4 linked regions of the Homo sapiens genome follow. The protein of the gene in region 3 interacts with the protein of the main gene of each other region in a pairwise test. Each region holds a gene or a part of one and is shown on either strand. Other genes may lie near its edges. The genes, in order: TRIM23, CCHCR1, CIMIP4 and MEOX1.

What was found.
Region 1: the proteins of CIMIP4 (region 3) and TRIM23 interact in binary tests that used the Homo sapiens proteins (3 or more experiments, as listed by UniProt).
Region 2: the proteins of CIMIP4 (region 3) and CCHCR1 interact in binary tests that used the Homo sapiens proteins (3 or more experiments, as listed by UniProt).
Region 4: the proteins of CIMIP4 (region 3) and MEOX1 interact in binary tests that used the Homo sapiens proteins (3 or more experiments, as listed by UniProt).

Annotation. Positions count from the first base shown.
Region 1 is NC_000005.10:65,592,589-65,597,148, reverse strand, and holds part of TRIM23 (E3 ubiquitin-protein ligase TRIM23), read left to right. Parts: coding exon 1-98; intron 99-617; coding exon 618-728; intron 729-2,503; coding exon 2,504-2,628; intron 2,629-4,560.
Region 2 is NC_000006.12:31,150,839-31,155,398, reverse strand, and holds part of CCHCR1 (coiled-coil alpha-helical rod protein 1), read left to right. Parts: intron 1-599; coding exon 600-903; intron 904-4,276; coding exon 4,277-4,440; intron 4,441-4,538; coding exon 4,539-4,560. UniProt on the Homo sapiens protein: May be a regulator of keratinocyte proliferation or differentiation.
Region 3 is NC_000022.11:37,004,672-37,009,715, reverse strand, and holds the start of CIMIP4 (ciliary microtubule inner protein 4), read left to right. Parts: upstream 1-1,864; 5' UTR 1,865-1,987; intron 1,988-2,059; exon of another isoform or gene 2,060-2,244; intron 2,245-5,044.
Region 4 is NC_000017.11:43,659,060-43,664,240, reverse strand, and holds the start of MEOX1 (homeobox protein MOX-1), read left to right. Parts: upstream 1-2,318; 5' UTR 2,319-2,706; coding exon 2,707-3,175; intron 3,176-5,181. UniProt on the Homo sapiens protein: Mesodermal transcription factor that plays a key role in somitogenesis and is specifically required for sclerotome development. Required for maintenance of the sclerotome polarity and formation of the cranio-cervical joints.

The sequences.
Region 1 (4,560 bases), on a different chromosome or scaffold from region 3:
AATTCGGGTCGTTACGTTAGGATTGGATGGTGCTGGAAAAACTACTATCTTGTTTAAGTTAAAACAGGATGAATTCATGCAGCCCATTCCAACAATTGGTAAGTATGAATATTGGTTTTTACCTTAATAGACAAACCCTAGCTTACAGCCAAGTTCTTGGGGTCTTATTTGATACTGATCTGTCATGGTGGTGGGCTCTTTTCTGGCTCTAAGATATCAGCATCTCAGAGAAAAAATGCAAGATTGTATGACTATGGGATTGAAATGTGGATGGGGATAAAAAGAAGAAACAGAGTATTGGTGGGACAGTTGGAAGGAATAGAGGATTGGTGATCCTGGCTGAGGGTGTGGGGTGGGGGGTAGTTGTGGAACAGAGCTGGAAGGTACATGGATCCCAAGGTCCTAAGGACCTTGGTGGAGGTTTAGAGGGCTAGGAGCTGTTACAGGTATACATTCACCACGTAGGAGTAGGAATGGGGTTGATTAGGCTTCAGTAGATATTGCTGCATGTAGATAATTTGATAAGTCACAGTTATAAACTGGGGGTTGTCTGTGTTTGATATGTCATTCATTGTAAATACAAATATAGTATAAAAGTAACTTTTTTTTTAAAACAGGTTTTAACGTGGAAACTGTAGAATATAAAAATCTAAAATTCACTATTTGGGATGTAGGTGGAAAACACAAATTAAGACCATTGTGGAAACATTATTACCTCAATACTCAAGGTGAGAGTTAAAAATGACATTTAATTTTTCACATTTTTAGGATGACAGTTTTCAGTGTACTGATTTAACTAGCAAAGCTGATACTTATGATTAAGTCGTTGACTGTATACTTAAGTACCTGTGGCCAGTTTCTTAACTTGTAAAAAATGAAAGTAGAAAGATTAGGATATATACTTTTAGTTTATTCCTGATATACCATTATTACAGAATAAAAACCATACGTAGCTTAGATATGTAGTCAGTTAAGAGTACTCTTGCTTCTCTTAACAGAGAGTGTATATTACCAGTATTATATGGGTGTGACTGCTGGTAGCGTAGTGGTATAGAGTTGAATTTATGTTGTATGATTCTGCTGAATTCAGTTAAACTCAACATTTATCCCATTATAATCTCACTATAGCCCCACTCCCACATTTCTTTCACAAATAGTTATTACCTGCAGAAGAACTTACAGTAGCTTGCTTTTGACCAAACCGTATTATATCATATCTATACTCTACATAGGTTTTAGTCACATTTGGGTCTTACTCTACACTTCTGCCTCATAGACCCCAACATAATGCTTACGCTCATGCCGCTTATTCTGTATGTTATTCTGCTTTCCACCAAGATGAGAGACTGAATAATTATTTTTACTTTGGGATTTTTGATATTATTATGAGCCATAATTAATAGAAAAAATGTATTTTTTTTTTGAGACAGAATCTTGCTTTGTTGCCCAGGCAGGAGTACAGTGGCATGATTGCATTTCATGGTCACCTCTGTCTCCTGGGCTCAAGCAATCTTCCCACCTTAACTTCCCAAGTAGTTAGGACTAGGTATATGCCACCACATTCAGCTAATTTTTTTTTTTTTTTTTTTTTGAGATCGAGTCTTGCTCTGTCGCCCAGGATGGAGTGCAGTGGTGCGATCTCGGCTCACTGCAAGCTCCGCCTCCCAGGTTCACGCCATTCTCCTGCCTCAGCCTCCTGAGTAGCTGGGACTACAGGTGCCCACCACCATGCCTGGCTAATTTTTTTGTATTTTTAGTAGAGACGGGGTTTCACCATGTTAGCCAGGATGGTCTCCATCTCCTGACCTCGTGATCCGCCCGTCTTGGCCTCCCAAAGTGCTGGGATTAGAGGCACGAGCCACCGCGCCCGGCCACATTCAGCTAATTTTTAATTTTTTTTTAATAGAGATAAGGTCTCACTATATTGCCCAGGGGTCTCGAACTCCTGGGCTCAAGTGATCCTCTCACCTCAGCCTCCCAAAGTGCTGGGATTATAGGTGTGAGCCACTGTGCCCTACAAAAATGAAATTTTGAATATGAGGAATGGTTGAAAGTCTGGAGATAGTTAACTTAGACATAATACTTTGGAGAAATAAAAATGGTGATGGTTTTTATCTTTTAGTCTTTTATTCAAAGACTAAATATTAGAAAAGTAGTATTCGAAGAACAAGTAGCATCCATAGGTAGAGGATCATGAGGCATATTTTGAAATTCGTTATGTAAAAAGTTATTTGATATACAGACCAATTTGCATTTGATAGAGCAAGTGTTGTAAATCCTTTCCTAGATGGGGAAACTAAACCTGAGAAGTTATGTAAACTACTTGAAATCATACTGTTAATTATTTGTAGGTGCCCCTGCCATACTAGGCACCCTCTGTGTGAAAATAATGATGGTAGACAAACTCTAACCATAACATAATAATGATATCATTAAATATTTGGTTCATTTACTGAACTTTAGCAAGTGACTATTTTTGTTTTTTTTATTTTTTTTTGGGTAGCTGTTGTGTTTGTTGTAGATAGCAGTCATAGAGACAGAATTAGTGAAGCACACAGCGAACTTGCAAAGTTGTTAACGGAAAAAGAACTCCGAGATGCTCTGCTCCTGATTTTTGCTAACAAACAGGTAATGCATTTTTATATTGGAATATTTATTTTAGTAGTTTTGTGCATGTCAAAAGGCAACTGGAAATATTTCAGAAGACAATCAGTTCAATAGATATTTATAGTTTCTTCTGTGTATTTTGAGTACAATCTATGTGAAAATGCTGTGCTGGGTACCTGGGAGTATACAAAATAGAAATAAGGTAGTTAATGCTCACCAGAAACTCCTGTGTATGCATATGAACACATAAGAGATCTGAATACGAAGAAGACTGATAAGTAACTTAAGTAACACAGTGTTACGGGAATTAGGAAAGTAGTTCTAAATGTGGCATGTTGTAAGATTGTAAAATGTAGAATTTGAGTTGAAATTATGCATGAGGCTGAGTCAGTATGTGAAAGGAAGAACATTATAGACAGAGAAGATAATAGCATGAATGTTTTTAGTTTAGGGAACATCAAGCAGATCTATATGTCAGGTCTCAGTAGAGGATGAAGAGAATTTAGAATAACAGACAAGGCCATGCTGTAAAGGTCTGACAGTGCTAGACTGAGAAATTTAGGTTTTATTCTATGAGCAAGGAGGAGTCATCAAAATGTTGGATTAGTGGGTAATAAGATCATATCAGTGTTTCAATACTATAATTCTAGGGGTAGAATGAATCAGGGCAAAGGACTGGAGACAGGGAGATGCAGTAAATTGCTTAAATAATTCAAGTGAGCATTAACAAGAGCCTGAATTAGAGGAATAGAAAGGCGGAGGCAGATGGAAAAGACTTTGAGGCAGAACTGGTGACTGAATGGGGAGGATGAAGGACTGGGAGTAGCTGAAGATTCCTAGACCTTGAGCCTTTCTAGGAGGATGAGATGCTTTTAAGTAGAGGCAGAAGGAGAGTAGAAGTGGAGCAGAGGAGATGTCATGGGAGGGGAAGAGTAGGATGAAGAATAAAGAATTTTCCCCTTAATAAAAAAGGCAAACTATTAAGAACTGGTATATTTAAGACATGCAAATAAGTCAGTGAAATACCATTTTCTGCTCATCAGATAGTTAAAGATGAAAGTGTTTTATAATCCTCAGACTTATATACAACTGTTACTATTATTATTTTGAGACTGAGTCTTGCTCTGTCACCAGGCTGGAGTGCAGTGGCACAACCTCTGCTCACTGCAACCTCCCCCTCCTAGGTTCAAGCGATTCTTCTGCCTCAGCCTCCCAAGTAGCTGGGATTACAGGTGCTTGCTACCACACCCGGCTAACTTTTGTATTTTTAGTAGATTCAGGGTTTCATCGTGTTGGTCAGGCTGGTCTCAAACTCCTGACCTCAAGTGATCTGCCCGCCTCATCCTCCCAAAGTGCTGGGATTACAGGTGTGAGTCACTGCGCCTGGTCAACACTGTTCGTGGGTTATTAAACTGAGACATTTTCTTGGAGGACAATTTGGCAATACTCATCAAAGTCCCTTACCCTGCAATTCTACCTTTATATATCTGGTAGACAGATATCCAAAGGTTATCCTACAGATAATTTTGCAAATATACATAAATGTATGTCAACTTTTGTGTATGTATGTTTATGTATGTATGTGTATATATATGGATTTATAATAGCACATAAGCATAAAACTTCAATCTGAACATTCAGTATAGGACTGGTTAAATTATGTTGCAGCCACACAATGGAAGGGAATTCTGATATTAAAAATAATGCAGACCATCTGTGCTGATAATGGAAAGATACTCATCTTCAACATGTTTACGTAAAAAACAAACAGAAAACCCTGCAAGTTATAGAAAGTCTAAACTATGTTCCTGTTTGTGTCTCTTTGCATGAGTGTGCATGGAAATTTTCTGGAAAAATATGTTGTAACTGGTGGTTGCTCCTGGGAAGTTGGGGCAATGGGTGTTCAGAGTGGGAATGTAGTGAACTCTTCAATATATAACCCTATATATAAAC
Region 2 (4,560 bases), on a different chromosome or scaffold from region 3:
TCTCCTGACCTCGTGATCCGCCCGCCTCGGCCTCCCAAAGTGCTGGGATTACAGGCATGAGCCACCGCGCCCAGCCAATAAATGCCTTTTAACTAGCACCTGGCCTCACCATATTGATACTGGAAGCTTACGACCTCTCTATGCCCATTCCTCCCTCAAACTTCTTGCCCTTAAATTAGAATTGAGAAGTCCCTGTGTGTTCTTCCAACCTTTCCACTTAAAATGTGTGGCCTAAAAATAAAAAAATAAATAAGACAAAAAAACCACCAAAAAACAAAAAGAATGTGTGGCCTAATGATATACACATTTGATGTTGAATCCTCCTGTATGTAGCTCTCTCTAGGGAGATCATGTTCCACGATCTCAGCCAGACTTTAGGTCCTGTGAGTCCAGGCACTGGACTCAACATGCTCAATAGGGCTTTGATGAATGATGATGATGTCAATGCAGACATCCCCATACCCCAGCTTCAGCACCCCCTTCACCTCCCCACACGGAAGCAGAGGGGTCCTCTTTTCCTTCTCCTGGCTATGTTTATGCCCTCAACTATCCTTCCAGCACTGGAGACAAGTCTCACCTGCACTAACCTGTCTTTGAAGGTCCTGGGGGCTGGAGGGGTCACAGGCCCTGAGCCAGCAGGCTGAGGTGATCGTTCGGCAGCTGCAAGAGCTGCGGCGGCTGGAGGAGGAGGTCCGGCTCCTGCGGGAGACCTCGCTGCAGCAGAAGATGAGGCTAGAGGCCCAGGCCATGGAGCTAGAGGCTCTGGCACGGGCGGAGAAGGCCGGCCGAGCTGAGGCTGAGGGCCTGCGTGCTGCTTTGGCTGGGGCTGAGGTTGTCCGGAAGAACTTGGAAGAGGGGAGCCAGCGGGAGCTGGAAGAGGTTCAGAGGCTGCACCAAGAGCAGGTGAATGCAGGGGTAGAAAGGATTCAAATTCATAACGGAGAGCTGGGCAGTAGCTTCCAAGCAAAGAACAGGTATTGCAGAAAAGACCCTCCATGAGTAGTGAGTAGTAGAGTGATGAGACCTTTGGTGAAAATAAACACACATGGCCTAGAAAGATGGAGAATTTGGGTACTTTTATCTTAATTCAGGTTGCACTTTTCCCCCAAGACTCAGGTGGCCTCCCACCACTTGAAGCCCTGCTTCCCTTTCTAGTAGGAAATAGTTTGCCTCCCTACTTTACTCCAGGTACCAATTCATCAGGGGTATTGTGGAGGGCAGTGAGGAAGGTGGGTATAAGGGGGCTATGGTGGACTGGGAGAGAGAGATTATTCAGTCCTCAAACTCAGTACTTACTCTTTGCCATCTCTAAGACTCAGTGACCAAATTAGCCTGAGTCCTGCCTTCGTGGATGGAACTGACAGCCTCGTGGGGGATATACACATCCACATTTAATTTAATCATAATTAATTGCAATCAGGAGGAATGCCTTGAAGGAGAAGGACTAGAAAGCACTAACTTAGTCTGGGGTTCAGGGAAGGCCACTGTAACCAGTTGACATGTCAAGGAAAGAAACCATAGCCCTGGGCGCAGTGGCTCACGCCTGTAATCCCAGCATTTTGGGAGGCCGAAGCAGGCAGATCACAAGGTCAGGAGTTCAAGACCAGCCTGGCCAACATGGCGAAACCCTGTCTCTACTAAAAATACAAAAATTCACCAGGCGTGGTGGTGCGCACCTGTAATCCCAGCTACTTGGGAGGCCGAGGCAGGAGAATCACTTGAACCTGGGCAGTGGAGGTTGCAGTGAGCCGAGACTGTGCCATTGCACTCCAGCCTGGGCGACAGAGCAAGACTCTGTCTCAAAAAATAAAATAAAAAAGGAACTGGGAGAAAACAAGGGAGAATTCCTTTATAACCTTGTAGTGGGCAAGGCCTTTCTACCTGTGAGTCAAAATCCAAAATCTAGAAGCCATAAAGGAAAAAATTGATCCATTGACTTTATAACATGAACATTAGGAATAGCCAAAAAGAAAAAAAAAAGCTATATTTATAGCTCAGATCACAAGAAAAGGGTAATATCCCTAATATAAAATGTGTGCCTAGAAATTGGTAAGGGAAAGACCAGCAATCCAATCAGAAAATGGACAAAGGAGATTTATGAAAGAAACTTAGAAACAAGAAGCTAGGCCAGGCACAGTGGCTCATGCCTGTAATCCCAGCACTTTGGGAGGCCGAGGTGGGCGGATCACTTGAGGCCAGGAGTTAAAGACCAACCTGGCCAACATGAAGAACTCTACAAAAAAATACAAAAATTAGCCGGGTATAGTCGTGGGCGCCTGTAATCCCCCAGCTTCTTGGGAGGCTGAGGCAGGAGAATTGCTTGAACCTGGGAGACAGAGGTTACAGTGAGCTGACATCACACTCCAGCCTGGGCAGCAGAGCGAGACTAAAAAAACAACAAGCTACCGTTTGTGCTGAATAGGAGTTGGCCAGTGAAGAGGCGTGTGAAGTCCAGTGGTAGCTGGAAGACACTTGGTGGGACAACAGGTGAAGGCGGGGACAGGAGGCCAGAAGGCTGGGGCACAGAGATGAGGGGCACTGAGTGTGCTGCAGAGCCCAGGGCCCAGGGCACAAGGCTTTGGCCACTTCAGAACTTGCTACTTTCCCATAAGAGCAATGAGCAGGCTGGGCACAGTGGCTCATACCTGTAATCCTAGCACTTTGGGAGGCCAAGGTGGAAGGATCATTTGAGCCCAGGAGTTTGAGACCAGCCTGGGCAACAAAGCGAGACCCCCATCTCTATTTTATGGAAGAAATTAGGGCTGGGCATGGTTGCTCACATGTGTAATCCTAGCACTTTGGGAAGCTGAGGCGGGTGGATCACTTGAGGTCAGGAGTTCGAGACCAGCCTGGCCAACATGGTAAAACCTCATCTCTACTAAAAATACAAAAATTAGCTGGGCGTGGTGGCTCATGCCTGTAATCTCAGCTACTCAGGAGGGTGAGGCAGGAGAATCGCTTGAACCTGGGAGGCAGCGTTTGCAGTGAGCTGAGATCGTGCCATTGCACTCCAGTCTAGGCAACAAAGTGAAACTCCATCTCCAAAAAAACAAACAAAAAAAAATTGTTTTTTCAAGTAATAAGCAACCGTTGAAAGGTTGTTTTTTTTTTTTTTTTGAGATGGAGTCTCGCTCTGTCGCCCAGGCTGGAGTGCAGTGGCGCGATCTTGGCTCACTGCCAGCTCCGCCTCCCGGGTTCAAGTCATTCTTCCGAGTAGCTGGGACTACAGGCGCCCGCCACCACGCCCAGCTAATTTTTTGTATTTTAATAGAGACGGGGTTTCACCATGTTAGCCAGGATGATCTCGATCTCCTGACCTTGTGATCCACCCACCTCGGCCTCCCAAAGTGCTGGAATTACAGGAATGAGCCACTGCGCCCGGCCTGTTGAAAGGTTTTAAGCAGGGAAATAACATGATTAGATTTGTATTTTATGTCTAAAAAATTTTGTCATTTATGTCCCCCAAATTAATTTTATTGTTGTATGGAGACAGGGCTAGAGGAGGCAGACCAGGAAGCAGGGTGGGCACTTTGCCCTCCTTTCCAGTCCATCCCATGACTCTTGGTGGCTCTGACACCCCTGCAACCCTTTGAGGTGCCATGAGCAAAAGACACAAAATTCCTCCTTTCCTGGAGCTTTCCTTCCAGTGTGGTCCGACAGATAGTAACACATACACATAAGCAAGATATGGTCAGTGCTAAGTGCTCAGGAGGACGTGAACAGCTGATGGGGCAGAGTAGGGTGGGGAGGGACGGTATTAGAGGGCCCAGTGAAGCCACCCTGAGGAGGGGCTATCGCCTGGGGTCTGTGGAGCAAGGAGGGGCCGCTGTCTGGTTCTCAGCAGACTCCCCGTGGCCGGAGCGGGGAGCAGTGGGAGAGCCTCCAGGGTGAGCTCAGGAGGTAGGCAGAGGCCGGGTCCCCTGGCCTGCAGGTGTGGAGAGACACCTGGGTTTTGTTGTGAATGCTGTGAGAAGCCACTGAGGGTTTGTAAAGACTAGTTAGGAGATGGTCGCTGTTGCCCAGGCAAAAGATGAGGGTTGGTGGCAGTGGAGACGGAGACAGAGAGGTGAAGATATGTTTTGGGGGAGATCGGACAAGAACTCCTGATGGGTTGTGGGGCAGCTGCGGAGAGTGAGTTGCCAGCTCTCCATTTGCTGTGCACAGTTGGCTGATTGGTTGGGTCATTCTCTAAGGTCACAGAAAGTGGGAGTGAAGGGAACAAGGAAGGCCTCCATGTGGGGTCGAGCCTCTGCTGAGCCCCCTCTTCTTTCCGCAGCTGTCCTCTTTGACACAGGCTCACGAGGAGGCTCTTTCCAGTTTGACCAGCAAGGCTGAGGGCTTGGAGAAGTCTCTGAGTAGTCTGGAAACCAGAAGAGCAGGGGAAGCCAAGGAGCTGGCCGAGGCTCAGAGGGAGGCCGAGCTGCTTCGGAAGCAGCTGAGGTAGGTGGGCGGACGCCGACGGGAGCCCAGCAATTAGTGATGTGGTGGATCTGCAGGGCGCCCCACTGATGGCTGTCCCATTCCCACCCCAACCCTAGCAAGACCCAGGAAGACTTGGAG
Region 3 (5,044 bases):
CCCGAGGAGGGACTGTGCTTGGTGTGCCCAAAAAACAGCAGAGCCTGGCATGGCAGGGACCCAGGGAGCACTTGGGAAAGTGAGAGGAGCAGAGGTCAGAGAAAAATGGTGGACAGGTTGGGTAGGGCCTTGCAGATAAATGGGAGGATGTCAGCTTTTACTGTGGTTGAGCTGGAAGGTTTTGTTTAGAGGGGTGACATATGATCTAATATAGGTCTTAACAGGATTGCTGGGCTGTTGAGTGAGAAGACTGTCAGAGGATATGGTGGACTCCAGGGTGGTCCCCATATTATCTGCCCCCTCGTGTTCATGCCCCGTGTGACCCTCTCCCTTTCACTGCGGGTGGGACCCGTGACTTGCTTTTAACCAACAGCCTACGGCAAAGGTGATGGATGCCACTTCTGTGACTATGGTACACAACATTGTAATGCCCCATCTTGCAAGGGGACTCCCTCTTTGCTGGCTTTGATGAAGTCAGTGTCATGTTGGTGTTGGGGGGCCCACATAGCAAGGAACTGAGGATGGCCTCTGGCTGACAGCCAGAGAGAGCCTGAGACCCTCAGTCTAACAGACTGCAAGGAACTGAATCCTCCCACAGCCACATGAGCTTGGAAGCATATTCTTCCCTAGTGGAACCTCAGATGAGACTGCAGCCCTGGCCAATACTTGGATTGTAGCCTGCTAAGACCCCAATGCAGAGAACTCAGCTAAGCCATGAGTAGACACCCGACCCAAAGAAACTGTGAGATAACAGTTGTATGTTAAGCTTCGAAGTTTATGGCAAGATTGTCGTGCAGCAATAGATAATACTTAGGCAAGAGATGAGGGTGGCTTGGACCAGGGAGTAGGGGGAGTTGTGGAGGTGGACGAAGGCATCCAAATCTAGTGTACTTCGAAGGACTTGCTGATGGGTTGCTTGCGGAAGTAGCTTAGAGTTTTGTGATGTCTCTCTCTGTGCAAGGCAATGTGCTACATTTTGCAAAAAATTGTTTTATTCGCCCATCACCCTTATCCTTAGTGTTGGGTGATATCTGTTTCACATGTGAAGGAAGTTCAGCTAAAGGACTTGGCCAGTCTCTTATCTAATAAGTGACAGGCCCAGATTCTGGGGACTCCAAGTTTAACCACAGCACTCTCTGTTTCCTGGGGAAATCCTGAAAGGCTGGGCTTGCAGGAGGCGTTCACTATACCCACTCTTTGTCCAGGCTGAGCAACAGCCAGACAGGAATGGGCCAGTGCTGGCACCAATGACTTCTGCCTCCTTCTTCTCTGCAGAAAAGAAGTCACTTAATTTTGTTGATCTCCTTCTGTAGCCCTTGTTGTTTAGGAATAGGAGAGAGGACCCTTCCTTTAGTTTTACTCCCAGGTCCCTGATCCCTGGGTGTCCAAATCAGACAGCTCCAGATGCATCTTTCTCCTTCCCCATTGACCTCGACCTACATTTATGCTGTTATACACATCCATGCCTTTAATATTCTCATCCCTTCAAAACTGTTAAGTTCCTAGGCATCCTTCAAGATCCAACTCAAATGGCTCTTTCATAAGTCCTTCCTCCTTTTTCCTACACAGAGCTAGTTCTTCTCCCTACTTAGTGCTTTGAGCTCCCAAGAACATCTTTTGCACTTGGTAGCATCTGAGCCCCCTGTGCCTGGCACACCTGGCATGTAGTGGGGGCTCAACTGACATTCTAGAGTGGATGAGAGAGTGAACAATAATTGAAGCCCCTCCTGCCTTTTCCTGGCCTCAATCCTGGCTTTCTCCTGGCCTCTTTTCCCTACGGGTGGGCCTATCAGCCCTCTGAGGTAACAGAGCCCTGTGTATAGTGATCACCATGGCAACTCCAATGAACATCTTGGGGAGGGCCACTTCCCAGCAACCATCCATTGGTCTTCACCAGTAGTTCTGCAGTGGGGATCTGCACTTCTGGGCTTCAGCACACATCAGTGTGGTTCACGTGTTTCCTGCTGTTATGAAAGAGATTGGAGAGGTGAGGCAGAGACTTATGAAGGGCCAGGGTTCTTCCAGGACATGGGGTTTCATCTTCCTTCTCCCCATTCAGAGTTGCTTGTGAGTGAAGACTGCCTAGACTGGACTTACCTTCCCGCCCTCTTTGACCAAAGTCTCTTGGGATCTCTCTCTCTGGGTCAGAAACTGGAAGTGAGTCCACACTTCCATTGTAGCCCGTCCAGACTGCTGTGGACTGGCAGTGCACTGGGACGTACAGAGCTGCCGTGGGCACGTCAGGTTGGTGGCTGGGGATAGGAGGAGAAAGAAAACTTGGAGCTAACTTGAACTTCACCTAGCTTGAAGATGTGCAATTTAATTTTAGCCCCACCTGGTGAAGTCCTGTGTCTTTTCGGAGCCTCATTTTCTCCATCTGTGAAAGAAGATAAATTAGTAGTGTCTCCGAACACCTTACTGGGTATTTGTGAAGACCAGACTAATTTACCAGATGTGAGAATGCTTGACATGGACTTGTGTTAGTTATCTCTTGCTGCACAACAAATCACCCCAAAACTTAGTGGGCTTAAGACAACATTTACTATCTCACAGTTTCTGTGAGTTGGGAATACCGGTGGAGTGTTGGTGATTTTTCTGTCCCAGGGTCTCTCACAGGCTGCAATCAAGGTGTTGCTTGGGTCTCTAGTCTCATCTCAAAGCTCGACCAGAGAAGGAACCCATTCACATGGCAGGATCCAGCTACTCTGGAGCTGTTGGCAAGAGGCCACTCTGAGTTCCTTGCCCTGTGGACCTCTCCATAGGGCATCTCACAACAGGGAAACTGGCTTCTGTCAGAGAAGATGAGCTGAGGAGAGCTGCAGAGAGTGTGTGAAAAAGACAGAAGTTGTAGTCTCTTATAAGTTCATCATGGATGCAACATCCCTCATTTTTGCCACATTCCATTCATCACTATGTCCAGTCCACACCAAAGGGGAGAGAATTATACCAAGAAACAGGGATCATTGGGAGCCATGTCAACTGCCTGCCACTCTCTGCCCTCTGGCCCCCAATAATGTACATCCCTTCCACATGCAAAATATAGTCATCCCCTCCTAAGATCTTTAAAATTCTCATCCTATTAAAGCATCAGTTTAAAAGCTAGAATCTGGTCATATAAATCAGCTCCAGGTGTGGCTGAGGCTCCTCCAGTGTCGTTCCTTAAGTACAGCTTCTCAGATTCAATTCTTCCCCATCATAGATCTGTGAAACTAAGTAATTTGCCCTGAACACACCTAACATACAGTGATGTGATAGGCATAGGATAAGAACTAGTGACATTCCTATTCAAAATTGAGGAAAATGGAGACATGGAGTCAATGTTCCATAGCGGTTTTGAAATCCAGCCACACAAATGTTGGACATTCCTTGATTAGGTTTCAAGGCCTGGGGATAATTCTCCATGGCTCTCAGCTCTGCCTTCTGGACTCTTGCATCCACTCTCTGACTTGTCTTTTTTATTTTTATTTTTTGTTCAATGGTATCTTTTCATTTTGTACTGTCTCTATCCCTTTTACCCGAAGTTGCCAACATTTTGCTGATGTTATTTTCTCAACAGTAAAACTTACAGGGGTTCACTCCATTGAACAAAAGTCACACCCCTTTTTAACTGAGGCTCCTGTTGAGGAGCCTTAAGCTTCCTAGAGGTCCTATGGTTCTGTTAAGAGGATATATCAGGCATCTCTTTAATCTCTTTAAAGCACCCTTTGTTTGACAGAGTAATACCCTCATCCTTTGATCTTTCTGAAGTTTTAACAACAGGTCGCACAGTCACACTCCTGGGCACACTTTCCAGACAGCCTTCTGAAGCTATTTCTTAATTTTAGCATCTTTTGGGATCTGGAAAGGATGAGACTTCAGAACCATTAAGTACTGGCATCTTTTTGTTTAACAGTCCCTTCTTCAATTCATCACCTTCCTCTCACATTTCACTACAAGCAGCAAGAAGAAAGTAAGAGGCAACTACCATCTTTTCTTTGGAACTCTTTAGCTAAATCATTCAGTTCATTAGTCACATAACTGCAGATGACAGTGTCACTGTTTCTGCCACTACATAACAAGGGTCTTTCTTCCACTATTTCTAGTAATATATTCCTCACTTCCATTTGGGCCCTCACTCACTGCATCTTCCAACTCCAGATTTCTGCTTAAAAAAAAAAAAAAACTGTTTAAGGTGATTTAGGCTTTTTCTATCATGCTTCTCAAAATCCTTATAGACTCTGACCACCGCTTGGTTCCAAGTTCAGTCCCAAATTTTTAAGTATTTGTTATAGCAACACCCCACTGTTAGTACCAAAATATGTATTAGCTATGTATTGCTGCGTAACAAATGACCATAAAGCTTAGAAGTTTGACACTGTATGTTTAAAACAGTACAAATTTATGATCTCAGAACTTATAGGAGTCAGGATGCTCACTTGGCTGGGTCCTCTGGCCCAGGGTATCCCACAGGCTGTAATGAAAGTGTCATCCAGGCTGTGTTCTCATATCAAGGCTCAACTGGGGAAGGATCCACTTTCAAGCTCATTCAGGTGTCAGGATTCATTCAGTTCTTCAAAGACTGTTGGACTCAGGGCTTCTATTCTTTATGAGCTTTTGGCCAGAAGTCACCCTCAGTTTCTTGCTCCATGGGCTGCTCCACAGGGCAGCTCAAAACACGGCATTTGCTGTCATCAGAATGAGCAAACCAAGGAGAACCAGGGAAAGAGAGCAAACAAAACCGAAGTCACAGGCCGGGCACGGTGGCTCACACCTGTAATCCCAGCACTTTGGGAGGCTGAGGCGGGTGGATCACTTGAGGCCAGGAGTTAGAGATCAGCCTGGCCAACATGGTGAAACCCTGTCTCTACTAAAAATACAAAAATTAGCCAGATGTGGTGGTGCACACCTGTAATCCCAGCTACTCAGGAGGCTGAGGTGGGAGAATTGCTTGAACTTGGGAGGTGGAGGTTGCAGTGAGCTGAGATTGCACTACTGTACTCCAGCCTGGGTGACAGAGTAAGACCCTGTCTCAAAAAAAAAAAAGAAAGATCACATAAGAAAACAA
Region 4 (5,181 bases), on a different chromosome or scaffold from region 3:
GCCTTGTGCAGGTTACACAGTCTATCTGTGCATCAGAGTCTTCTGCTGAAAAACGGAGCTGATAAAAAAAAAAGAGAGAGAGAGAAACGGAGCTGATGAGAATGACTGTTGCCTCAGAAGGCTTTTGTGGGAATCCGTGGGGGTAAAAATGTGTAAGGTGCAAAGTGCCTTACACAGATCCCACTCTGACTGTCATCTCAGATGAGGAAACAGAAGTTCAGAGAGATGGCCAGGCATGGTGGCTCATGCCTGTAATCCCAGCACTTTGGGAGGCCGAGGCGGGCGGATCACGAGGTCAGGAGATTGAGACCATCCTGGCTAACACGGTGAAACCCCGTCTCTACTAAAAAATACAAAAAATTAGCCGGGCGTGGTGGCGGGTGCTTGTAGTCCCAGCTACTCGGGAGGCTGAGGCAAGAGAATGGCGTGAGCCCGGGAGGCGGAGCTTGCAGTGAGCTGAGATCATGCCACTGCACTCCAGCCTGGGCGACAGAACGAGACTCCATCTCAAAAAGAAAAAAAAAAAAAAGAAGTTCAGAGAGATAAGGTGACTTGTTCCAGGGCACACAGCCAGGAAGTGGCAGACCTGGGGCTTGAACTCAGACCCGTCTAACCTCAAACCCCATGCCTCCTCCTCTGCATCTGGCCTGCTCCAAACTGAACAGCAGGACACCTGAGGCCAAGTGCTGATTCCACCATTTCTTAGCTGTGTGAGTCTGGGCAGCCCAGTCATCCATCTGAGCCTCGGTTTTGTCATCTGCAAAATGGAGACATAATTCTTACTTACCCATCCTAGGAAAGTTGTGAGGCTCAGAGAATTGTGTGTGCCACAGCTAAGCCCTGGGCAAAGCAGAAAGATGAGTCTGGTTGACAGCTATGACCCCATCCACTCTACTGGTCTACAACACTCTGACCGCTTGTTCCAGAAGAGGGCACATCTTTTCATATGTACACCCCTCCCCATCTTTTACAGCTGCTCCTGCTCCCAGGATGTGTATCTGACTGGAGTTTCTGGATTAAAGGCCAGTCGTGGCTTCATTCCACATCCCTGGGTGCCCTTCGGCTCCTCCTAGGAGCATCTCCTGCACCCACCCCCCAGGGCCCCACCTCCAGGCTGCAGAGCTAAGACCTAGGGGCCCCTCCTCAGGGAACCCTCGCCGTCTTTGGAAGCAGCCAGCAGAGACGCTGCTGTTAAGGTCCATGCCTGTTTCTGCCCCCATCCTGCTGCTCTGGGCCATGGGAATAACCAGTGGGGAAGGAGTTCTGGCCCCTGGGTGTTAGGAATGTCGTCCTCCAAGAAATTGCATTAACCCTCTGAGAGACCAGCAGGGCGCAGCCATGAGGAAGACTGGGCATCAAGATGGCACTTGGGCTGGCTGCCCTGTGATGTGCACCAGCCCGGAGACCCACGTGCCTGCTTGCCAAAGAGGCTCCTTTGGGGAATGAGGAGCCCCTGATTCCTATTTCCCTACCCCAAATTCCTCGGAAGCCTCCGCCTCTGGGGGATGAGAAAGGGAAGCAGGTGGGTGGAGGTGAAGGGGGCAGGGAGCAGGTGGGAGGAGACCCGAAGAAACTTCAAGGACCTTATTTAAGAGCCTTGCCATTGCTGTGAAGAAAAATGACTTGAAACCTCTCTAGAGAAGAGTGTGGCTAATTGGCATGTATGTTGGAGGTTAAAGAGCGGAAGGAAGAATCTGATTGTTTTTTTAAGTTACTGAGAAAGTGAGAATGTCACTCTGGGCAGAGAGAAATTCTTTTTTTCTAGAGTGTGCCTTTCTTTGTACTGCAGACCACAGTGGGCCGCTGAGACTTGCAAAAAAGATTTCTTTTAATCCACCTTCCTTTTTCGCAGGCAGCAGTAGAAGGGCCTTTAAATCAAATGCAATCACCAAGCTTGTCTCTTGCTCTTATTCCTCACTTCACTCCCTGGAATTTGGCATTTGATGGATTCTGGATCTGACTTAAGGCTTTTTCTAAATCCAAGACTTGGGGAATTTTGTTAACAGTGCAATAAAAATAACTTCATAGTGTTACAGGAGGCACATTAAAGACGGTGTGTGTGTATGTGTGTGTGTGCTGCTCTCTTTCCTTAAAAAAAAAATACAGACAATGTTTCTTTAAAAGTCTCCATCTGCAAATCCCATTAGATGTGCATATAAGGTTTCTGATGATTAATAGTTGCCTGCTAGGGTTTTGGTTGGAGGGGATCTTGTGTGTGTGGGTTAACCCCTCCCTCTCCTCTCTCACATTTCACTTCAGAAATTTGTCACTCTCTCCCCACCGCAGGATTTAAAAGTGTGTCCCAGCAGCCCTGGTCCAGCCCTCTGCAGGCATTTGCTCTGGGCTCCAGGACGAACTCCTCGTCAGCTGGTGCGTCTGGGTTGGGACAGTGAAAATGTTTAGTGTCATTGGCGACAAATACACATACAGGGGATCCCAGTAGGTAGGCTGGTGCATTGGAGGGGCAGGAGCAAGCCCGACATAGGTGTGTGCACACACATAGGAGTAGCTGGCCACATGTGTGTGTACTTTAAGGAGAGACTTTAGTTTTGGGTTTTTTTTTTTTTTTGGTTCCTGGGGTAAATTTTCTGTTGAACATTTTTCCCTCCTATTTAGTTTTTTTTCTTTTGCATTTTTAAAAATTTGAACATAAAAAGTATAAAGAATCAAATCTTTGAAAGGACCGAGGCGTGCAGCGGACAGCAGATGGATCCCGCGGCCAGCAGCTGCATGAGGAGCCTCCAGCCCCCAGCCCCTGTCTGGGGCTGCCTTCGAAACCCCCACTCGGAAGGCAATGGGGCCTCAGGGCTACCCCACTACCCGCCCACCCCGTTCTCCTTCCACCAGAAACCAGACTTCCTGGCGACAGCGACGGCAGCGTACCCTGACTTCTCAGCCTCCTGCCTGGCAGCCACCCCACACAGCCTGCCCCAGGAGGAGCACATCTTCACTGAGCAGCACCCCGCTTTCCCACAGTCCCCCAACTGGCACTTCCCTGTCTCAGACGCCCGGCGCAGGCCCAACTCAGGCCCGGCAGGGGGTTCCAAGGAAATGGGGACCAGCAGCCTGGGCCTGGTGGACACCACAGGAGGCCCAGGCGATGACTACGGGGTGCTTGGGAGCACTGCCAATGAGACAGAGAAGAAATCATCCAGGCGGAGAAAGGAGAGTTCAGGTAGGTGGCTCAGGAGCAGCTGATCATTCCTTTACTGTGTGACCCTGGGGAAGTTACTCACCCTCTCTGTGCCTAGGTGCTCTGAGCATGAATTTCTGTCTAGTCCATCCAAATGCAGGAGACTGGACCAGTTACCTTTGGGGTTTCTTCCACTGAGAGTTCTAGGATTCTCTGGTGATGGGGACCATGTCTGTGTCCCAGCACTCCTGGGCCCCAGAAAGGGTGTCCAGCAAGAGAATGAAACAGGATCAGCCAGGATTTGGAGGACACGTGAAATGGATCCTCTGGGTGCAGACTGGCGAGGGCTGGTGAGGGGCTTTCCTGAATCAGGCTGCCATTGAGTCATCCTCCTCCCCACCATGCTTTGGCCAGCCCCAAGTGGTCCTAGAGCCACAGGGCTCGCTTACCAGGGAAGTTCAGCTGAGGTTAAGGCTCTGAGAGCTAAGACTGAAGCTGGGACCCTGGGTGGCCACCCAAAGCCAAGACCCTATGTGTCCAGGAGCCTAGAGGCAGAGAAGCAGGCCTGCGGCTGGGATGGGAGAATCAAGGGGTGAGGGGGAGATGGAGGGCTGAGGTTTGGGGCAGACTGCCCACCAGATATCACCCTGCGGAGCTGGGCCATGTCCAGGCCAAGGGGACAGACAACTCAGCATGCTGAGATCTGGCTGACCCCCCAGGAAGGCAGCCCCGCAAGGAGCTGCAAGGGATGGGCAGCCTCTGAGAGAGTCAGGGAGGCAGGCAGCCAAGGGAGTCCGTGCTGGAGTCCCAGAGGCTGGAGGATGAGATTGGCCTATTTGTTAAGATTCCAGCTAAAGCCCTTCTCTTCCCCAGGGTGGGGACCTGCTGCTTCCTCACCTCCCCACCAGGCCCTCCCTGGTTGCTCACTATACCTGTCCACCTTTTGTCTGGTTCCTTGTCCCGGCCTCGTTCAGAACAAAGCAGTGACCAAGCCTCCTGCCCGTGCTGCCCTGTTTTCCTCCTGACAGCCGCCCTCAGGGGCACGCCTGTCTGTCGGAGCCTGTAGAGGACCTTCCCATGGGGCTAACCAGGGCAGGACAGAAAAGAAGGACACCAACCAACAGGTGGGAATGCTTTGTGCTTTGCTTTATAAGCACAGCTTTCCCGAGTTTCTGCTCTTAGCCAAGCCCAGGAATGCTCTGAGATGAATAAAGGGGTCTCACCCAAGAAAGCTCAAACTGAGAGGAAGAAGAGGCCTGCAGAGGTGTGTCAGCAGTGGGATGTGCCCTGATGGGGAGGCTTAAGGTGCCATGGGATACTGACGTCAGCTCTTTTGAGTCCCACGGGTTTGGGAGATGGGGACAGCAGGTTTTATTAGTACCTTGATTCTCTCAATCTGCAAAATGAAAGACTGAAAGTTGGTGAGAACACAGAAAGAATGGGGTCAAACTAGAGTGAGCAGCTCATCTCCATTTGCCCAGGACTTTTCCAGTTTTAGCACTGAAAATCCTGTCGTAGGAAACCCCACAGTCCCAGGCAAACAGAAGAATTGGTCACCCTAGAAGTGAGCTCAAACCCCAGGCTTCAGGCCCCCGGTATCACCCCCTTCAGTAGATTTCAAATGCAGTCCTCATTTTGAAATGATGTTTGGTCTGTCTGCTTGAAGAAGCCCCTTCTTCAATGGGAGATAGGAACTCTAGCAGCCCTCATGGCTGCTAAATAGAAGGGCCCTTTAAACCGCCAGCCAGTTAGATCCCCATCCCGAAAATTAACTCATCCTGCCCCTGGTAGGAAATGTGCTAAGGATGAGAAGCAACTCTCAGCGACTTGGCTCTGAACCTGGTTGAAGAGCTTTCCCCTTGGTGGCGGCACGCAGCACTGTGGCTCCTTCCTCTCTGCCACTTTCCAGAGAACTGACAGCCAAGGGCATTGGGAAGGGATAGCAAAGCCAAGAGCCTGCTGGGCTCAGGCAGAATCTTCCAGCATTCCGAGTCTCAGCAAAACCCAAATGCACCAGCTCTCTTTTTGGCGAGTGGCCGATGGCCCTG